Linked DNA regions of Homo sapiens: regions 2 and 3 are each linked to region 1. The links come from fine-mapping of genetic effects on gene expression. A gene starts in region 1. Each other region holds a variant in brackets. All regions are shown on one strand. Distances are between the middles of the regions.

What was found. PIP is the estimated chance that this variant, and not a neighbour inherited with it, causes the effect. A credible set is the group of variants that fine-mapping cannot tell apart.
Region 2: its variant is the best candidate, but not a certain one, in a credible set for the expression of SPTBN1-AS2 in whole blood (INTERVAL, PIP 0.80).
Region 3: its variant is the best candidate, but not a certain one, in a credible set for the expression of SPTBN1-AS2 in sun-exposed skin (GTEx, PIP 0.81).

The regions. Positions count from the first base shown.
Region 1 is chr2:54,676,306-54,682,857 of GRCh38, reverse strand. It overlaps SPTBN1-AS2 (SPTBN1 antisense RNA 2), which reads left to right and starts at 2,813. Exons shown (of 3, transcript NR_186176.1): 1 at 2,813-3,034. LOC105374653 (a long non-coding RNA gene) reads right to left here. Exons shown (of 3, transcript XR_940104.2): 2 at 1,103-1,302.
Region 2 is chr2:54,513,030-54,519,581 of GRCh38, reverse strand. The region is part of intron 1 of SPTBN1 (spectrin beta, non-erythrocytic 1); the gene reads right to left. SPTBN1-AS1 (SPTBN1 antisense RNA 1) reads left to right here. Exons shown (of 4, transcript NR_185881.1): 4 at 1-265. It also overlaps the pseudogene C9orf85P1. Among named protein-coding and RNA genes, the nearest start is that of SPTBN1-AS1, 42 kb to the left of the region's middle. The variant C/T (reference allele first, on the strand shown) is at 2,579.
Region 3 is chr2:54,738,222-54,744,773 of GRCh38, reverse strand. All of the region lies in intron 2 of EML6 (EMAP like 6), which reads right to left. Among named protein-coding and RNA genes, the nearest start is that of EML6-AS1, 9.6 kb to the left of the region's middle. The variant C/G (reference allele first, on the strand shown) is at 3,695.

The sequences.
Region 1 (6,552 bases):
GTTCAATGGGAACAAAATAGACATGAGTTTACCTTGTATTTTTGTTAAGAGACAAAATAATGCTAACTGTACCAATCCTGGTGTTTAGTAAATATTAGATCCTCAATGAAAATCAGTTATTAATATTTTAATATAGGAAAACAGGGCCAGGCGCAGTGGCTCATGGCTGTAATCCCAGCACTTTGGGAGGCCGAGGCAGGTGGATCACCTGAGGTCAGGAGTTCGAGACCAGCCTGGCCAAAATGGTGAAACCCCATCTCTACTAAAAATACAAAAATTAGTTGGGTGTGGTGGTGTGCACCTATAGTCGCAGTTACTCAGGAGGCTGAGACAGAAGAATCGTTTGAACTTGGGAGGCGGAGCTTGCAGTGAGCTGAGATCATGCCATTGCACTCCAACCTGGGCGACAGAGCGAGACTCCATCTCAAAAAAAAAAAAAAAAAAAAGGAAAAGAGGTCAAATGGAGATTGTTTACTAAATAGTATTAGGTAAATAGTATTAGGATAACCGGCTAGAGATCAGGGAAAACAATTGGTAGAGGTACCCCTTATAAAAGACATCAAAACAAATTTCAGAAGAATTTATTTAAATTTAAACATGGTATTAAAAAGCACAAAATAAATGTGTTATCAGATCTGTGAAAGAAGATTCATGTCCTCAGTTTTGAAGAAATAAAACCACAAGGAAATGAACAGACCTTAATACTGAAACATAAATTTCATACAAAAACAAAACAGCAGACTGAGGGAAATATTTCATTTGGTGTAATTGATAAAAGGTAAAAATCTGGAGAAAACATTTCAATTTATAAGCAAATCATAGTGATGCCAATAAATAAGCAGACTAAGGATGTTGCAGTGGATAGCTTCATTGTTTTTTTGTTTTTGGCAACTGTGGTAGGCAGAATAATGGTCTCCCAAAGATGTCCACATCCTAATCCACAGAAACTACAAATATGTTTAACATTACATGGCAAAGGGGGATTAAAGTTGCTAATCAGCTGACCTTAAAATAGGGATTGTATTAGTCTGCTTTCACACTGCTATAAAGATGCTACTCGAGACTGGGTTATTTATAAAGGAAAGAGGTTTAATTGACTTACAGTTCTGCATGGCTGGTGAGGCCTCAGGAAACTTACAGTCATGGTGGAAGGGGAAGCAGGCACATTTTTCACAAGTCAGCAGGAGAGTGGAGCAAGGAGGAACTTCCAAACACTTACAAAACCATCAGATTTCCTGAGAACTCAATGACCACAGCATGGGAGAAACCGCCCCCATGGTCCAACGGTCTCCCTCCCTCGACCTGTGCGGATTACAAATCAAAACGAGATTTGAGTGGGGACACAGAGGCAAACCATATCAGGGAGAGTATCCTGGATTACACAGGTGGGCCCAATATAATCACAAGGGTCCTTGAAAGTAGATGAAGGAGGCAGAGGATGGCAACAGTGATGCAGTGTGAGAAAGACTTGATCACTATTGCTGGCTTTGAATATGGGGAAGGGGTCATGAGCCAAGGAATGTGGGCAGCTTCTAAATGTTGCAAACAGCAAGGAATTGAAATTTCCTCTAGAGCATCCCAAAAGGAAAAGAGCCCTGCCAACACCTTGATTTTAATGCAGTGAGTTTTTGTGTCAGACTTCTTACTTATGGAAGAACTGTAAGATAATAAATTTATGTTGTTTGAAGCCACTAAGTTTGTGGTAATTTGGTATAGCAGCAAAGGGAAATTCACACAGCCAGCTACTTTTTAAACGCTGTTCCTGTGTTTGCAGAATCTGTAACCTCAAGGGGCAGAACCTTCCTTCTGCAGAATATGAGGTCTTTTCCCAGCTGCACTTGCAGCAAGGGCACAGATCCATGGCCAGTATCTGTCAATTGTACACCTGCATGATTTTGAATTAGAGGCTGGTCATGTGCAGAGGGGAGCCTGGCAGAATCTGTTCTGTGAGGGCAGTGGCAGGGACAGCTGTCACTGCAGCAGCGTGTTGCTGTCAAAGACAGCAATTCCCACAGCAGGGTTTGCGCACAGTATGGTGTCATGGTGGGCACCTGGCAGTGTCAGAGTCCAGTGACGAGTTCCAGGAGCCTGCCCTAGGCTGGACTTTGGACATTTTTCCTGGCTGTATAAGCCCTAAGCCTGGTGCCCTTGTCCTCCTGGAGATTCTGGGAGCCTTAATAAGTTCCTTTTCTGCTAAATTAGCCAGAGTTGGTTTTTGTGGCTTGTGATTCAGAACCCTCAGTAAATCAGATATGAATGAACAATTCAATTCACTCAAAAAGAAAGTGGTGACACATCCCTGTAGTCCCAGCTCTCAGGAGGATCGATTGAGCCTGGGAGGTCGAGGCTGCAGTGAGCCGTGATCATGCCACTATACCCCAGGTTGGGTGACAGATAAGACCCCATCTCAACAAAAAGGAAAAAAAAAAGCAAGAAGAAAGAAGAAAAAGAAAGAAAGGAAGGAAGGAAGGAAGAAAGGAAGGAAGGAAAGAAAGAAAGAAAGAAAGAAAGAAAGAAAGAAAGAAAGAAAGAAAGAAAGAAAGAAAGAGAAAAAAGAAAGATGACAAAAACAGGAGAAAAAGTTGACCCTAGCTAGCAGTCAAAGAAACTCACAGCTTGAGGTGCCATATGATAGTTACTAAAAACAAAAACAATTGTTTCTGTAGCACAACAACGAGAACAGTTCCTCAGATAATGTCATTTCATTCAACTTTTTTTTTTTTTTTTTAATGATGAGAAAAAAATTGATTCTCTGCCAGGGCCACTGTCTGTGTGGTTTGCATGCTCTCCCCACGTCCACAGGGGTTTTGCTCTGGATGCTCTGGTTTTCTCCCACCCCTCAAAGAGGTGCATGTTCAGTTCACCGGCATGTCTACATGGTCCTGGTGTGAGTGTGGGGTGTGTGTGAGTGTGCCCTGCGATGTGACAGTGTCCTGTTCAGGGCTGGTTCTTACTTTAAGCCCTGAGCTGCTGGAATGAGCTACAGCAACCGGAGACTGGAGACTCCGGCAACCTAGAGAACTGTTATTATTGAGTAAGTTATCTTACTTGCTTTTATTTATCTTTCTTAAATGTATGTATAGCTCATATTTATTTCAGTGGTTAATATCAGAAGTGTTTTTTTTTTTTGAGACGGAGTCTCACTCTGTTGCCCAGGCTGGAGTGCAGTGGTGCAATCTTGGCTCACTGCAACCTCTGCCTCCCAGGTTCTAGTGTTTCTCCTGCTTCAGCCTCCTGAGTAGCTGGGACTACAGGCATGCGCCACCATGCCCGGCTAATTTTTGTATTTTTAGTAGAGACGGGGTTTCACCATGTTGGTCAGGCTGGTCTTGAACTCCTGACCTTATGATCCACTCGCCTCGGCCTCCCAAAGTGCTGGGATAACAGTCATGAGCCACCGCGCCCGGCCTTTGGTTTTTATTTAGAATTTTGATGTGTTTGTGACTAGAAATAAACCATAGGAATATTAATTTGCTTGTGGTAAAATTGGTGTTACTTACTTTCAGATTGCAAGAACATATTGACAACCTTAAGTGAGGACTGACTGTACCTTTGTTTATAGCTAGTAACTAAATGGATACACTGTTTGGAAAGTAATTTGGAAAGGAGTAATAGGAATATTTAGCAAAAATCTGTAAACGTGTCCTTAGCTTCTGACCTGGCAATTGCCAAGAAGCTTGGGAGGGTGTTTGGTAAGATAAAAATTATTTGTGTGCTTGTGTTTGAAAATTATTGATGTGGGCTTACAGTGTGTTAAACTAGGGGTGATAAAATTTGCATTAGGACCCCAGAAGCTTTTAGAGAGCAAAGAGATTAGAACCTATATTCAGTTTCCTGAAATGTAAAGTGACTGAAGCTGTCAGAGCGGCTGAGATCAAGGCTCTCTCTGAGGCTGGGCAGGAGAATGACTCCCCTGGGAGAACATTTCCACAAGGGGAAAGTGGTTAGTAGATGCGTACCCTGCACCAAGGCACGTGATTAAAGGGGAATATGGTCTGTGCAGTAGCCATACCAGGGGGCAGTTTATGCCCCCAGAAAACTGCTCTCAAAAAGAACCAAGAGCTGTAATTTTGGGAACACAAGCCTCTTTGGTGGAGAATGGTGTTATTGCTAAATGCTCAGCATCTGGGGAGCATTTTAATGCCTGATGCTGCATCAACTTGTGGAAAACTACCAATAGTCCTTGAAATAAGCATCACAAAGTCTTGTAGAAACACAGCAAAATGTTTATGATGCATATGTAAGTAAAAATTGTATGCAGAATAGGTACTTGTGATGTTTAACTATGTAGGATTTGAGGCATGTGGGCCAGTGGGTTGTTAGAGTTAAAAAAAAAAGGAAGAATGCTTTTTTTTTTTTTGAGACAGAGTCTCTCTCTGTTGCCCAGGCAGGAGTACATGGGCATGATCTCAGCTCACTGCAACCTCCACCTCCCAAGTTCAAGTGATTCTCGTGCCTCAGCCACCCAAGTAGCTGGTATTACAGGCGTGCACCACCAGGCCTAGCTAATTTTTTTTTTAAGTAGAGATGGTGTTGTGCCATTTTGGCCAGGCTGGTCTTGAACTGCTGACCTCAAGTGGTCTGTCCGCCTTGGCCTCCCAAACTGTTGGGATTACAGGTGTGAGCTACCACACCTGGCCCAAGAATGCTTTTATCATACTGTCTTTCCTGTTCAAAATATTGCATCTCTTACCAACATGTTTCACTAAAAAAACATGAGGTCACCAAATGCCTATTTAAGGAACTGAATTTTTATTTTTAAAAATAAAGTCCCCCAAGTGATGCTACTCATCTGTTTCTTTGGGGAATCCCAGATGCCTGAGTTAATGGTCAGAACATCATTTGGCTGGGAAACAATCCATATAGGTGCAACTGTCCCTGGGTGCGTGGCCCCGTGATTGGGTGCAGCTCCCTCTCAGTCAGTTCTCACTGTCTTATCAAGACTCCATCTCTGAAATCTTGAAATGCATCTTGAAATGCAAGGATCCTTAATCCATTTATTCCTTTGACAAACAGAAAATGAGCCCTTCTGTCTGTTCACGCTTCCCCTCTTTCCTCTTCTGAGAAATGGAGGTCTAATTGCTGGCATGGGAAAGAGCCTTGTTTTAACCGTCAGCTCCGCCCTAGTGGATGGAAGACAGGGTTAGCATGCCCTGTTTTTCATACAGCACCTGGGCTTGTAAAATGGAACTAAAGAAGGAAATGATGACCAGGCATCCAGAAGTCAGCTCCTGTCTTTCTATGCTCTGCTAGAAAAGAGAGGTTGTGAGCTGAGGGACATCAGGAGAGCAGGAAGACCTGCAGGAAGAGCCGGCTGGGCACCCAAACATGGCTGTACCTCAGAAGATGCCTGTGCAGTTCAGAACTTGGAGGAGATGGGGCCGCAGGTGCTGAGGAGGCAGCAAGAGTCAGATGCAGTGACACAGGGGAGGTCAGACATCACAGGAAAGAGCAATGATGGAAGTCAGGGAACGAAGGGGCCCTGTGGCCAGTTCAGGGGGCTAGAGTGAAAATCTGACCTATCTCAGCTGCAGCCCATCAGTTCCTGTAGCTTGTCTTCACATCCTTTGGCTAGAAAGCAGATGAAAGAAAACCTGTCCACAGAGGCTGTGGGCTGAGCCTCTCCTCCCCACTTTTTAAACACCAGACACCGACATAGGCTTTATGCTGAGCTGTGATTTATCTTGCCAACCTTCTGAGGCTACAGAGTACCCAGCTGTTTGGAGGGTCCTTCTGCCCTACCTTTCCTCCTTCCTTACTTCTTTCCTTCCATCTTTTCTTCCTTCCAAATATTTATTGTGTCCCCACCACACACTCTTTATCTGAACTTAAATTTGATCCGAAAAGGACTTCAGCATGTATTGACAGTTGAAATCCAGGCAGCTACAGATTTGTAAGGCCAGTGAATCAGGCATCAGCTATCCTCTAATTACATTGCACATGTATTTGAGAGCAAAGCTTGCACTTGCATAGCTAAACTCTAGAGTCACATGGATGCTCAAGGAGTCAGTGAAGAGCTGTGGCTTCAAGAACCCAGCCTTGCATGGCTGTTGAGTGGACATGACACTGGGTATCCAGTCCTTTCTCTGAAAGCCCACGACTGGGGCAACAGCTTACACACATGAGATGCCCTCTCAGCTGGCACTGGTTCCATGACCATCATTCCTCAGCCCACAGAGAAGTGCAGGAAAAGAATCTAGGTGGGGGACAGTTAGTGTAGTCTGAGAGTGTGGCCTCTGGAGAGATGTGTCAGAATTCAAATATCCAGCTGCGATTTGTACAAGTACTTAACTCTTTAAGCCTCTGTTTTCTTCTTTGTACAATGAAGACATTGCCTGGTAGAATTGCTGCAAGGATTTGATGAGAACGCAACTTGAAAACTTAGCACACTGCCTGGACAACCTTATAGTTGGTTACCTATTAATATTAGCAAGATGAAATCATTCCATTTGGAGGAAAACAAATGGTGGAAACAAAACCAGTGGTTCAGAGTCCCATACCTAAATCACTGACTGATTTTTTTCAATCAGTTGTCCTGACAGGTTCAGATCC
Region 2 (6,552 bases), 160 kb after region 1:
CCACTATCCATGTCCTAAGCTCTTGCAACTCCTGAGAGAGAAGAATCATGTTCTTGTCTCAGTTCCAAACCTATCACCTGGAACAGCTCTTTGCTCTTCCTGCAAATCCTAGCTCAGGTATCACTACATCCAGGAACCTCCTCAAATCACTCACCACCACCACCACCTGGTCTGAATTAGACAACCTTAGACAGTGCCCACATGCACTCCCTCCGACACCTTATGCACCGCTGACCTATCATTAAAAGACTGCTTCATAATTACAAACCTTCTATTTACTTACCATCAATAAGCCATGGCCTCTTGAGGTCATGATCCCATCATTCTGTCTTTATAACTCCTAGCAGGGTGCCTGGTAACATTAAGTGCTTGCTAATTATTTGTTTCTAAATGGGCTGCCTGGACAGGTGGCAGAGGGAGGACTGGGAGGTGAGAGCACAGGGGCAAAGTCAATTGGAGCTGCCACTCTGGTACTATCTCCATCAGTCACAACGCCTGAAACATATACTCCTCTGATTTAGATAGATCTGGTAGACACTCTGCTTTCAAGGAAGTCACATTTTTTAAAATAGGCTGCTAATGAAAGAGTGAATATTTTATAAGGTGCCTCTCCATACACATAATAAAATTTAGATTTCCCTTTTAAATTTAGTTTTTACCCTTGTAAAAAAATTATTTTTTGTCTGAACTACTCAGATTTCAGAGAGTAAAGCAACAAATAGAGAATACATGGAATTTTCATTGGCACTACACATATGCACACACCCATATACACACACTTCCTTAATACCCAATCTTAAAAGGCTCAAATAAATTAAATAAAATGAAGAAGGTGACCAATGTTTGCCAGTCCTTTTCGAGGAAGAAAACTATGTAACAATTACTTTGGCAGAATTCAGAGACCCAAATGTTCTGCAAACACTTAAAACACTCCCACTTTATTCATAAAAGACTTGAAAAAGTGTACACTGGATGCTGGTATGCTATCTTTAAAAAGGCCTTCTAAGGACTCTGAAGGCACCAAACTGCAAATCGTGTGTCTGAGAATTTTGCTTCAACTATCTCAACTGTTCAGTTGCCAAAAAGGAGTATCTACAAGAAACCACTGTTTCTTTTTTTTTTTTTTTAATTATACTTTAGGTTCTAGTGGACATGTGCACAATGTGCAGGTTTGTTACATATGTATACGTGTGCCGTGTTGGTTTGCTGCACCCATTACCTCGTCATTTACTTTAGGCATTTCTCCTAATGCTATCCCTCCCCCATCTCCCCACCCCATGACAGGCCCCGGTGTGTGATGTTCCCCGCCCTGTGTCCAAGTGTTCTCACTGTTCAATTCCCACCTATGAGTGAGAACATGCAAGAAACCACTGTTTCTTAATAACCTGTCTGACCTATTATTACTCAGGTACATGGGGCTAGTGCCAAAAAAGGACCGAGATTGCATCCCAAACATTCAGAGTTCTCTGCTCATAAATATAAAGACACACATGAAAAGTCACGGCATGATAATTAACAACACAAGAAAAGTCACAAGCATATAATGTCTATTATTAAAGTAGCCTTCACTTTTAAAACAATCCAGTGTACTGCAGCTTTACAGAAACATATCCACTGTTTAAAAAAAAAAAAAAACAATACCAGGCACAGTGGCTCATGCCTGTAATCCCAGCACTTTGGGAGGCTGAGGCGGGCGGATCATGAGGTCAGGAGCTCGAGACCAGCCTGGCTAACATGGTGAAACCCTGTCTCTACTAAAAATACAAAAATTAGCTGGGCGAGGTGGCGGGCGCCTATAATCCCAGCTACTCAGGAGGCTGAGACAGCAGAATTGCTTGAACCCGGGTGATGGAGGTTGCAGTGAGCTGAGATAGCGCTACTACACTCCAGCCTGGGTGGCAGAGCGAGACTCTGTCTCAAAAGAAAAAAAAAAAAAAGGCACCATAGAGCTGTATACAGTTCAGCCAAAATTCACAAAATCAGATCATCCTGACAGGGAAAGGTTCTCTGAGACCTATTAATAATTATTAAATTACTAAACTCTTGTTAATAAAGTATTTTGGACTTCAAATAATCTATAGCTGTACTAACTTTTATTTATCAATGACAGAGTATAGTAATATTTCCCACTATGATTATCAGATTTTCTTTCTCATTCCCTGAGTATGTTACAAGATCATAATTATTTTATCTTCCAGATGAGCTGTTAATATTATGAAATATTGTTGTATCTCTATTAACATATGAACTCTATTTTGATTGACAGTAATATTTGCCTGGTATGTATTTTTCTATCCCCTTATTTCAAACCTTCTGTAAACTAAAAATAAAATTCTAAGGCCCCCAACCATCTGAATGGGCCCTCTTGGCCAAGGGCATCCCGGAGTTGCCTGAAAATCTCTTTCAGGCCATGATGGAAAAGGGGAGGATGGACATGCCTCACTATCCATCCCCCTCCAGCATTAACATCAACTCAGACCTTAAGTGGGATAAGAAATACTCAAACTCTATTCTCTCTGAAGCCTGCTACTTGGAGGCCTCATCTGCATGATAAAACCTAGGTCTCCACAACCCCTTA[C/T]CATAAGCCAGACATTCCTTTCTACTGATAATGACTCTTTCGACCAATTGCCATCAGAAAAAATTTAAATCTACCTATGACCTGGAAGGCTGCCCCTATCCTGCCCTTCCAGGTCAAACCAATGTAAATCTTACATGTACTGATTGATGTACTGTGTCTCCCTAAAATGTATAAAAGCAAGCTGTACCCTGACCACCTTGGGCACATGTTATCAGGACCTCCTGAGGCTATGTCACTGGTGTGTCCCTAACCTTGACAAAATAAACTTTCTAAATTGACTGAGACTTGTCTCAGACATTTTGAGTTCACACTTCTAGAGTCACTTTGTCTTAGGTATGCCTCTCTTTGTTTCAATCTAACCCAAGAGCCTCTGTCACTTAGTCGGCAAGCATAATCCATTTGCATTTATTGGGATTACTACCATATTTGACGTTTCAGTCAATTTATTTTGTATTTTCAATCATAATTAACAAAAATATGGAAACTGGGGCCCCAAGAGTTAAACAACTCAATCAAGTCACACAGCTATGATGCTTTTATCATAATATCTTCATCACTATTGAATCTTGTACCATAAGAACACAACCTAATCTTTAAAATGCAGAGGTGATGACTCTAAACCCTAACACAGCTAAAAATTACATTTTGGGAGGATGGCTTACTCTTTCTGGGGTGCGGTGCTTTATTTGCTTTCTCATTCCATCCTCCTCAGCAACCTTTTGAAGTAGATACTATTATTAGCCCTATTTTACAGGTGAATAAACTAAAGTTTTGCTGGTGGTGGCACAGGAAAAAAATGAAGAAACCAAGAGGACTTGAACCAAGTGGGTATGACTCCAAAGCCCATGCTTTAAATGAACAAATTGGCCTACCCTCTAAGGCAAGAACCCTTTAATAGTGGTCTATGTCAGAAAAATATCAAAAAGACTCAAGGCTCTTAAATAAATAAGGAAATGAATGACCTGCATCAAAGTCTAATTACGCCTAGGCCAGTTACCCACCCAGCCAGGTCTCCTTGTACATACACAATGGGGGTGATATTGCCCCCACAAGGAATGAAAATTCATTTTGGGGATGAGGCAAAAAATTGTATTCTTTTTCATATTAGCATAGATATATAATGTATCTATGGCATGAAAATTTCATGGGTGGGCAATTAGGAGGAAAAAAAGGGTCACACTGGGCGAGGGGGCTCACATCTGTAATCCCAGTGCTTTGGGAGGCCCAGGCAGGAGGATCATTTGAGGCCATGAGTTCGAGACCAGCCTGGGCAACAAAGTGAGCCCGTCTCTACAAAAAAATTAAAAATTAGTCAAGTGTGGTGACACATGCCTGTAGTCCCAGCCATTCATCTTCAAATGGGAGGATCACTTGAGCCTGGGAGGCCAAGGCTGCAGTAAGCTGTGATCATGCCAAAGCACTACAGCCTGGGGGACAGAGCAAGACCCTGTCACAAAAATAAATAAATAAATAAATAATCTAAAAAATTCCTGATAAGGGATGGGAATAATGAAAAAAATGATGAAAAACACTATCCAAGCTAAAGAAAAAAATGCTCATCTCCTTTAATGAAGATGTAACCACCCAACAGTTTCACCTCACCCACTGTCTAGACAGAGCCTATTTATCAAGACAGGGGAATTGCAATAAAGTTATTCACACAGAGCTGGCTGTGCAGCAGACCAGAGTTTTGCTATTACTTAAAACAGTCTCCCCAAGAATTTGGGGACTGGAGTTTTTAAGGATAATTTGCTGGGTAGGGGTCCACTGAGTTGGCAGTTCTGATTGGTAGGGGTGGAGATGAATACAGAGTTGAAGCTGTCCTCTTGCATTGAGTCAGTCCTGGGTGGGGGCCACAAGACCAGATAAGCCAGTTTATCCATCTGGGTGGTGCCAAATGATCCATCGAGGACAGGGTCTGCAAAATGTCACAAGCACTCATCTTAGGTTTTGCAATAGTGATGTTATTCCCAGGAACCATTTGGGGAGGTTTAGAATCTTGCAGCCTCCAGCAGCATGACTCCTAAACCATATTTTCTAATGTTGTGGTTAATTTGCTAGTCCTACAAAAGCAATCTAGTCCCCAGGCAAGAAGGGGGTTTTGTTATCATCTTTGTTTTAAACTACAAACTAAGTCCCTCTCAAAGTTAGTTTGGCCTAAGCCCAGGAAAGAGCAAGGACTGCTTGGAGGTTAGAAGCAAGATGGAGTTGGTTAGTACAGATCTCTTCCACTGTCTCAGTTAGAGTTTTGCAACGGCAGTTTCGAACACTTGAAAAAAGCCTCAGAAGACAGAAAGATGAAGAGCACATTTCTCTGTACTAAAGAATTAGAATTTCACATATCATGGGTCCCATTCATTATGTCTCTGATATAAAATCTCAGAGTGGCTACTCCCCACCAGAACTAACGTGTGTACTTTAGGGGAGCAGTGAAGATTTAGCCATCTTCTTCCTACAACATTCAAACGCTAAAATGCCCATTATGAACCTCCATTCTCAATATTCAGAGATAAACCTCTTTCCTGTAAGGATGGAAAACGCCACTGGAAGGTGATTCTAGCTTTACAAACAACACAGTCCAATAGACACATTTTTTTTTCTTAATGGGCAAATTCAACCAGGCTCTATACTCTTTGAAGGAGCAAAATTCACCCTTACTATAATGGAAATTAATTGTTTTTTAAGATTTCACTCGTGGGAAATACACTGTTTATTTTAAAACATTCTGCCAAATAGATCTCATCACCACGGTTTAAGAACTTATTATCATTATTATACAGTATAACCATGAATACACTCTATAACAAAAAACGGTATGAGACAGAAACATGGCACCCCTCTCACCTTCCTCCATTTTACAGAGCAAACTGCACAAGGAACAGTGATATTACAAATGGATTTATTATTTGAGTCCCTGAGAAGAAAATTCTTTATCTGCTGCATAGAAATTTATCCTTCTTTACTACTCGTACATTAAAATTTTAAAGTACTTCTTCTCCGCTTACATATAATACTCTCTAAAATCTAAATATAATTTTGTAAGTCCTAATATTTTGAAAAATCAGCTGAATATTGAAAGTAGATAGATCTAGAGAGAAAAGTTAATTTTTCCAATGTTCAGTTACAAATCTTGAAATCACCTAACTTGAACCAACTAAAATATTTTTTAAGTCCTACCAAATAAATACACAGCTATTCTCATATACATGGCAGTTCAAGGCCATCCTTGTTTCTGTTCCACATACAGAGAAGAGCTATTAAAAAACTGAAATTAACTGATGTCTTCTGGTTGACTAAATTATTTTTAAAAATAGAAACTATTAACTCAATACAGACCTAGCACCATGGTCTTATGGCTAATGTGGGGTTTCTAGCCACCACAAATAACAATTTGGTCTTACATTTACTTCCAAATAGTTTTAAATTACATTAGAGTATAGTTCTAATGGTGCTGCTGCCAAAATACCAGTCCTGAATTTCAGTGAGTTTGGCATTTCACTGCCCTATTTGTTGTGAAATTTCATAAGTTAGTATCATATGTGCCTGAACAACACAGGAGCAATAAAGCACTTTTTATTTGTAATCTGACTTCTCCTAGAGCAACCCAATGCCAAAATCCTCTGCAAATCTATCAAGTGGAAATGCATATCTCAATTACCTGGAAGGGAATGAAATGAAACAAATATGTAAAACTACACTGAAAACCAACACTATACTAAGTGATATGTGAGACACATATACCTCCCCCCACCACCACAAGCTCTGCAAGGGCCAGCATCCTCTTTGTTCTGTTCTAGTGTGGTTTCTTTTTTGTTTGCTTGCTTGTTTTGAGACAGGGATTCACTCCGTTGCCCAGGCTGGAGTGCAGTGGTGCAGTGTTGGCTCACTGCAACCTCTGCCTCCAGGGCCTCAGCCTCCCTGGTAGCTGGAACCACTGGCACACACCACCATGCCTGGCTAATTTTTGTATCTTC
Region 3 (6,552 bases), 62 kb before region 1:
ACCTCAAACTCAGCATGTCTGAAATAGGCCCCCATCCTCCCACCCCAGAACCCAATCCTCCTCCTCGGTCCCTCTCTCCCCTAACTGACCCACAACTTCCTAGTCATCTAATGCATTTGCTCCTCCCTCTCCCACTTCCTCATCCCATGAATGCCCCCTTTGCCTCTCCACTGTCTCCCTCCTGCTCCCCCTGCTCTGCGTTCCAGAGGTCATTCCTTCACACTGGCCTCCCTGACTCTGCACACCCCACTCCCCTGTCCATGCTACTTTTTTATAAGTCCGTATGTCTAAAATCCAGATCCAGTCACAGTCACTAACATCTTTCAAAGCTTCCATGGCTCACCTCCGCATTTGGATTTTTATCCAGTCCAAATGTGAAATCACCTACATGTTCCTGCAAATTTATCCCTCGGGGTCACTTTGCCACCCAAGGACATTCCCATGGGTTTACATCCCTTCCTCTGGCCCCTTAGGCACTCAGCCAGCTCTTGTTTTCTTCTAGGCTACCACCATTATGGGTCCTTCCTTTCCCCACAAAAGACTGCTAACATAAAGCAATCTCTTTAGCTCAGAAGGCCGCCTGTCTCACAGCTGCATTTCTAAGTGTGCTACATTATTATTTTCTAGATTCCCCCCACCCCCCACAACTCTCCTCTGGCCCAACTACCATTGTTCAATGTAAATGCCCAGAATTGTCCAATGCATTGTCTTCATCCTAACTGTGACCTCAACCTGCAATGCTTTCCCCCACCCAGTGTGCCAGCTAACTTCCTAACATCCTCCTAGAGGCCACCCAAATGCCATCTCTTCCAGAATGGGTTCTTCCAAAACCCCACTAGTCAAATTTACCTTCCTTCCTCTATTCTCTAGTTCAGGGGTTTTCAAAGATATGTGCAAGATGATTTGGGGGAGTATAGTAAGAAATTTATATGTAAATTGCATTCACATATAAATTTAATGTAAATGTCATATGTGTTTTATAATATAATGTTAGCACAATAATACAAGTATATAACATAAATATATAAAAAAACAAATATTCCTATAGTGGGAGTTGCACAAGAGTATTTTACCAAGAGAGGTATACAATCAAAAAAAGTTTAGAGACTACAACTCTAGCTTAACATTTTTCACTATGGGCTTCTTATTTAAGGTAATTTTGGCTCTGTCTCTCCTGGTTTATGAGTTCCCATGTAATAGAAAGAACATGGCTTTGGAGTCAGAAATAGGTTCAAAGTTGGGTCTGTTGGTTACTAGCCATGTAACTATACCTCTGAATTCTCTTCAGGATTACAGGGAAAAATGCATATATATAAAATACGTCTTTGAAAATAATAGATATATACAGCAGGTCCTTGAATAACATTGTCTTGTTACAACATTGATGAGAAAAAATATCAATTCCTGGCCAGGGCCACTGTCATTTGGAGTTCGCACGATCTCCCCACGTCTGCGAGGGTTTTCTCCAGGTGCTCTGCTTTCCTCCCACATTCCAAAGATGTGCATGTTCAGTGAACTGGTGTGTCTCCATGAGTGCTACATGAGTGCAACTGTGTATGTGCGTGCACCCTGCGACGTGACTGCGTCCTGTCCAGGGCTGGTTCCCACCTTGTACCCTGAGCTGCGGGGATAGGCTCCAGCCACCCGGGACCCTGAACTGAATAAACAAGTAAATCATTATCTTACTAGTTTTTATTAACTTTTCTTAAACATCTAGATAGCTCCCATTTACTTTAATGTTTAATATGATAAGCATTTTGGTCTTTAGTTAGGTTAGTGATTTTCCTGTGGCCAGAAATATGCGTAGGAATTTAACTCTTTATATCAATCGGCTGATGGTAAAATTGGTTTGTTGTACATTGTTTTGTTTAAAGTCACAGTTTCCAAAGACCTATCAATGATGAAATTCAGTGAGGACTTACGTGTGAAAAAACTTACTCAGGGCCTAGAGTGAGGTTTCTTTCTCTTTTATGTCATTCTTCAACTCACTTTGCAAAGCTCCTTATATGCTTTACTGAATTGAATTCTCAATAACAATCTACCAGTGTGTCTAGAGGAAGAAGCTGAGGCTGGCTGTGTAACAACTAAGAAGTGGTAGAATCAGATTCAAACCTAGGTGTGACTGGCACTGAAGCCCTAGCTTTTTCCACCACATAAAGAGCCTCCGGGACACAGAGGGGCCAGTCGCCTGCATAACTGGGGTGGAGAGACACACAAATGGAAAGTCATAGCAGAATTGAGACGTGTTTAAGAGACGGAGAAAATGCTACAGTGGCAAGGAGGAAACAGACATTAGTTCTGCCCCCATGAAATCAGGGAGGGCTTCACAGAGATGGTGACACTGTAGTTGTCTCTTGGCTTATATGAATCTGCCACAAATTCAGATTCCAGAGACCTGGAAGGCACTTTCAGCAGCAAGGCTGTGGGCAGTAACATGGAGACACATATACCCTTTGACTTACTGCAAGGAGTATGGGTGATGGGACCAAAGGTAGGAAAGTCGGGGAAACAGAGCTGTGGCAAGAGATAATGGCAAAAAGGTGGGGGTAGGGTCGCATTCCAGAAGCAATAGAGTTGGCCGGAGTTTTTAAGCAAGGCAGAGACAGATCAGATCTGTGCCACAGAACACTAATTCCAGTGCTAGCATAGAGCAGAAATTCTGGAGACTAAAACCACTTGAGGAATCTTTTTTTCTTTTAATGGTGTGGTTTGTCCCATTGTTATGAATGTTAATTTGAATTTAGTTATGGTGGGTTGCCAGGTTTCTCCACTGTACTTATTGTTTGTCCTTTGTAAATATTAACTATCTGGTGGTGGAGGACAATGTAAAATCACGTTTCTCAACAAAACTTCATCACTAGTTATAGCATCCATTGGTTTTCTAACTCCATCATTCCAGCTATATTTAATACTTGGCTTTCTATACAAGGAAGAGCTTTGCCTTCTCCCCATTGAGTTATTTATATCACTATGGATGCAAGGATTTTTATTTTATTCTACAGATTATAATTCATGCTCAAATTATCCCAGATGTCGCCAATGGAAGTCCCTTCAAGCTGGCTCTCATGTCATTTTAATATCTCCCCTTATTCTTTAAGCACTGCTATATTTTCTAGCACAAGAAGATATTCCAGATGTATCTTGTGCTTTCACTGCCCCAGGCCTAGAATCAGCTTTTTCTCCAAGGAGTTCTGTTCTTTTTTGTGGAGAACAGTCTTTAGAAACTGAATTCTTGGTGCTAGTCATGTTTCTGGTGCTGATGTGTCACTGCTTTCTTAGTAATCTTAACAGAAAGAGCAAGGAAGTGTGTGTGTGTGTGCGTGTGTACTTATTTATATACACCTATATATATATTTCTATGGCAACTTTTTAAATGCAGATTTTGGGGCCTCACACCTATACCTACTGAATCAGAATCCTTAGGAGTGGGCTCATTAAATCTGAATTTTTTTGTTTAAGTTCACCAGGTTCTTGAGCAGAGGATGGGCTAGGGGAGTAACCATCAAAGCCAGGAGGCCAGTTAGTACTCTATTGTAACCATCCACACAAAACCAGGGATGTGGACCAGGGCAGAAGCAGTAAGATAGAGAGGCCAAGATCAGCTGCACTTGGGGCTCTCTGGACAATAAGAATGAGGAGGGAAGGAGTATCCAGGCACTCAGTGGTTCCTGCCTGGATCGCTGTGATCGTGTGG[C/G]CTGCACTGTCATTTACAGAGTAAGCACTGAACACGTTTGTTTAACTTAAGTAGCTTCTCATTTTTCTCCCATAGATTATAAAAAAATCCAAGTTGTTGACATTCTGGGAAGAAAATAATTATAAATTTATAGAATTTATATCTCTTCTATTACATTTTTATCATATGGACTAGAAACTGAATTTCACTCAAGGCAAGAAAGATGACCTGCAAAGTCATTATCAGTAGGCCAACCCCTCACATACACAAACAGGGCCAGTCAAAGTGAATGTGTTCATATCTACTCTGCAGAAAAATAGGCCTGCAAGTCTTTTTACCAAGAAGCAACATCTGTAACAATATCTCTTATTGTCCCAAGAAAAAAAAAAAGAGCTAGAGTCTGCTAGAGATAGAAGTCATTAAGCTGAAAGGACTGCCTACTACCACTGCAGCATAAAACTCACTAGAGCATGAGGAAAATATATAAAGCAGATGTAAGAAGAAAAGTAAACCTGAAAGGAAATGACCCTTGGACATTCGTATTGCTATAACAGAAAGCTTAAAACCCAGATGAAAGTACAATCCAGAGAAAAATCATCATTCCCAGTGTTTATGTAGTAAAAGCAATTCATCAATGACCTCTTATTGCTAAATCCACTGGGCCGTTTTCCAGACTCACCTTCTTCTACTCTGCTGAGTCTGCTGAGCATCTTCTTGACACTCTCTCTGTTCTTGGTTTCAAGGGCATTCTACTTCCCTGGTTTGCCTCCTACCCCTGTGACCATTCCCATCTTTCATAAGTACCCCTTTATCTGCTGGTTTCTAAAAAGTTGATCTTTCTCAAAGTCCTGACCCTGGGATCTTTTCTTTCCTCCCTACCTTCTCTGGGTATCTCACCCACTCCTACACATACACTGAAACTCTCACAGCTCTCTCCTGAGCAAGGGCCCATATAAATGTATAACCACCTCTTGGATGTCTCACAGACACCTCAATCTAAATATGTTCAAAGCTGAACTCATCTCCCCTGACCCTGAAGCTGCTCCTCATTCTGTTTCAGTGAATGGTCATCACCATTCAACCAGCTGACTAAGTCAGAAACTTGACCACTACGTTACACCTACCTGCCTTCTTTCTACCCTACTCCCAATGCCCTCTCCCATATCCAATCCATCACCAGGAATCAAGAGTCTCCAGAACGTATTCATAGTTCTCTTTGCATTCTACCACAATTACTTCACACCTGGATTACTTCAAGTGCTTGCAGACTTGTTTCCTCCAATCCATTATCCACACTGTAGCCAGAGTGACAGGTATACAGCCTAAATCTAATGATGCCCCTTCTTCCAGAAAGCCTTCCCTAACCACCAACCGCCTCCCATGAATGGGCTAGGAGTATGTCCTGAGGCTCTCACACACTTTGGGTAACTAACCATATCTGGCTGTGCATATGTGGACTCCTGCCCTCGTGACTGCAAGTTCATTGAGAGGAGATGTGTGCTGTGTGCTGTGTGCTGCTGGGTCCCCAGCGCCTCACACAGGGTATGACACACAGGAGGCACTCAAGAAATCTTTGTTGTAAGTCATTTTCCTTAAGGGTTTCTTAACCTGGGGGTCCATGTACCCTTTTATAGATTTCAGGAGGTTGATGAACTTAGATTAAAAATTATACCTTCATTTTCACTAACTTGTAACACACTAAGATTTCCTATCATTCAAAAGGTAATCAACAAACCATAGAAGTGTTAGCAGCACCTGCGACCTTGTGACTGGTAAAACACAGAATTTTCATATCACATTACATTTGTTGCAGATATCTCAAACATCAGGTATATTCATCCCTACTTTTAAATCATAGTAATTATAAGAACTACTAAAACTTTTAATTGTATGTGTTAATAAAGAAGCACATATAACATATACCTACATATTAAAACTATTTTTATAACCATATTTCAAAAGAATTTCCTATAGAATATATGTATATATTTTACTTTATACATGAGAAAACACTATTCTGTGATGGTGGAAGTATAAATCGACACAACCACTTTGGTCTCAAACTCCTGGTCTCATGTGATCTGCCCACCTTGGCCTCCCAAAGTGCTGGGATTACAGGAGTGAGCCACCGCATCTGGCCAGATGCAACCACTTTGGAAAACCATTTGACAGTATCTAGCAAGTACCATATGTGCACCCCGTGACCTAACAATACCACTCCTAGGTGGAACTGCATATATGTTCACTTGTGCTAGAATGCTTGTACGAGTAGCCAAAGGAAACTGCAAACCATCCAAAGGCCCATAAACAGTAGAACAGATAAACTCCAGTATTTCCACACAACAAAAAATACAGAACTGAAAATAAGCATGTAGAAACACAAATGAATCTCATCAACATAGTATTGACTGAAAGGAGCTAGACATAAAAGAATGCAAACTGTACCATTCCTTTTAAAAGTACCTTAAGCAAAACTAAGCTATGCTCTTAAAAGTGAGGATGGAGGTCACCTTTGCAGTGGGGATTGTCACTGGAAAAGGGCATGAGGTGCTGTCTGTGGTATGGATGGTATTGATTTTTTGATGTGAGCAAGGTTACAGGTGTGTTGGGTTTGTGAGAATTGATCCAGCTGTACACTATGATATATGTACTTTTCTGTATCTGTATTACACTGCAATAAAAGTGTAAAACAGAACAAACAAGCCTATTATTCTGAGATGGTGTCTATAGGCTTCATAGCCTGTCAAAGGGGGTACAAAAAAGAAGTCCTATTCTAAGCAGAAATTCTAAGGGTATCATCCAAAAACAAATAAAAGTCATGCACAAGTCTTTCATTTGTTCATTCAACAAACACTTCTTAAGCACCTTCTACATGCCAG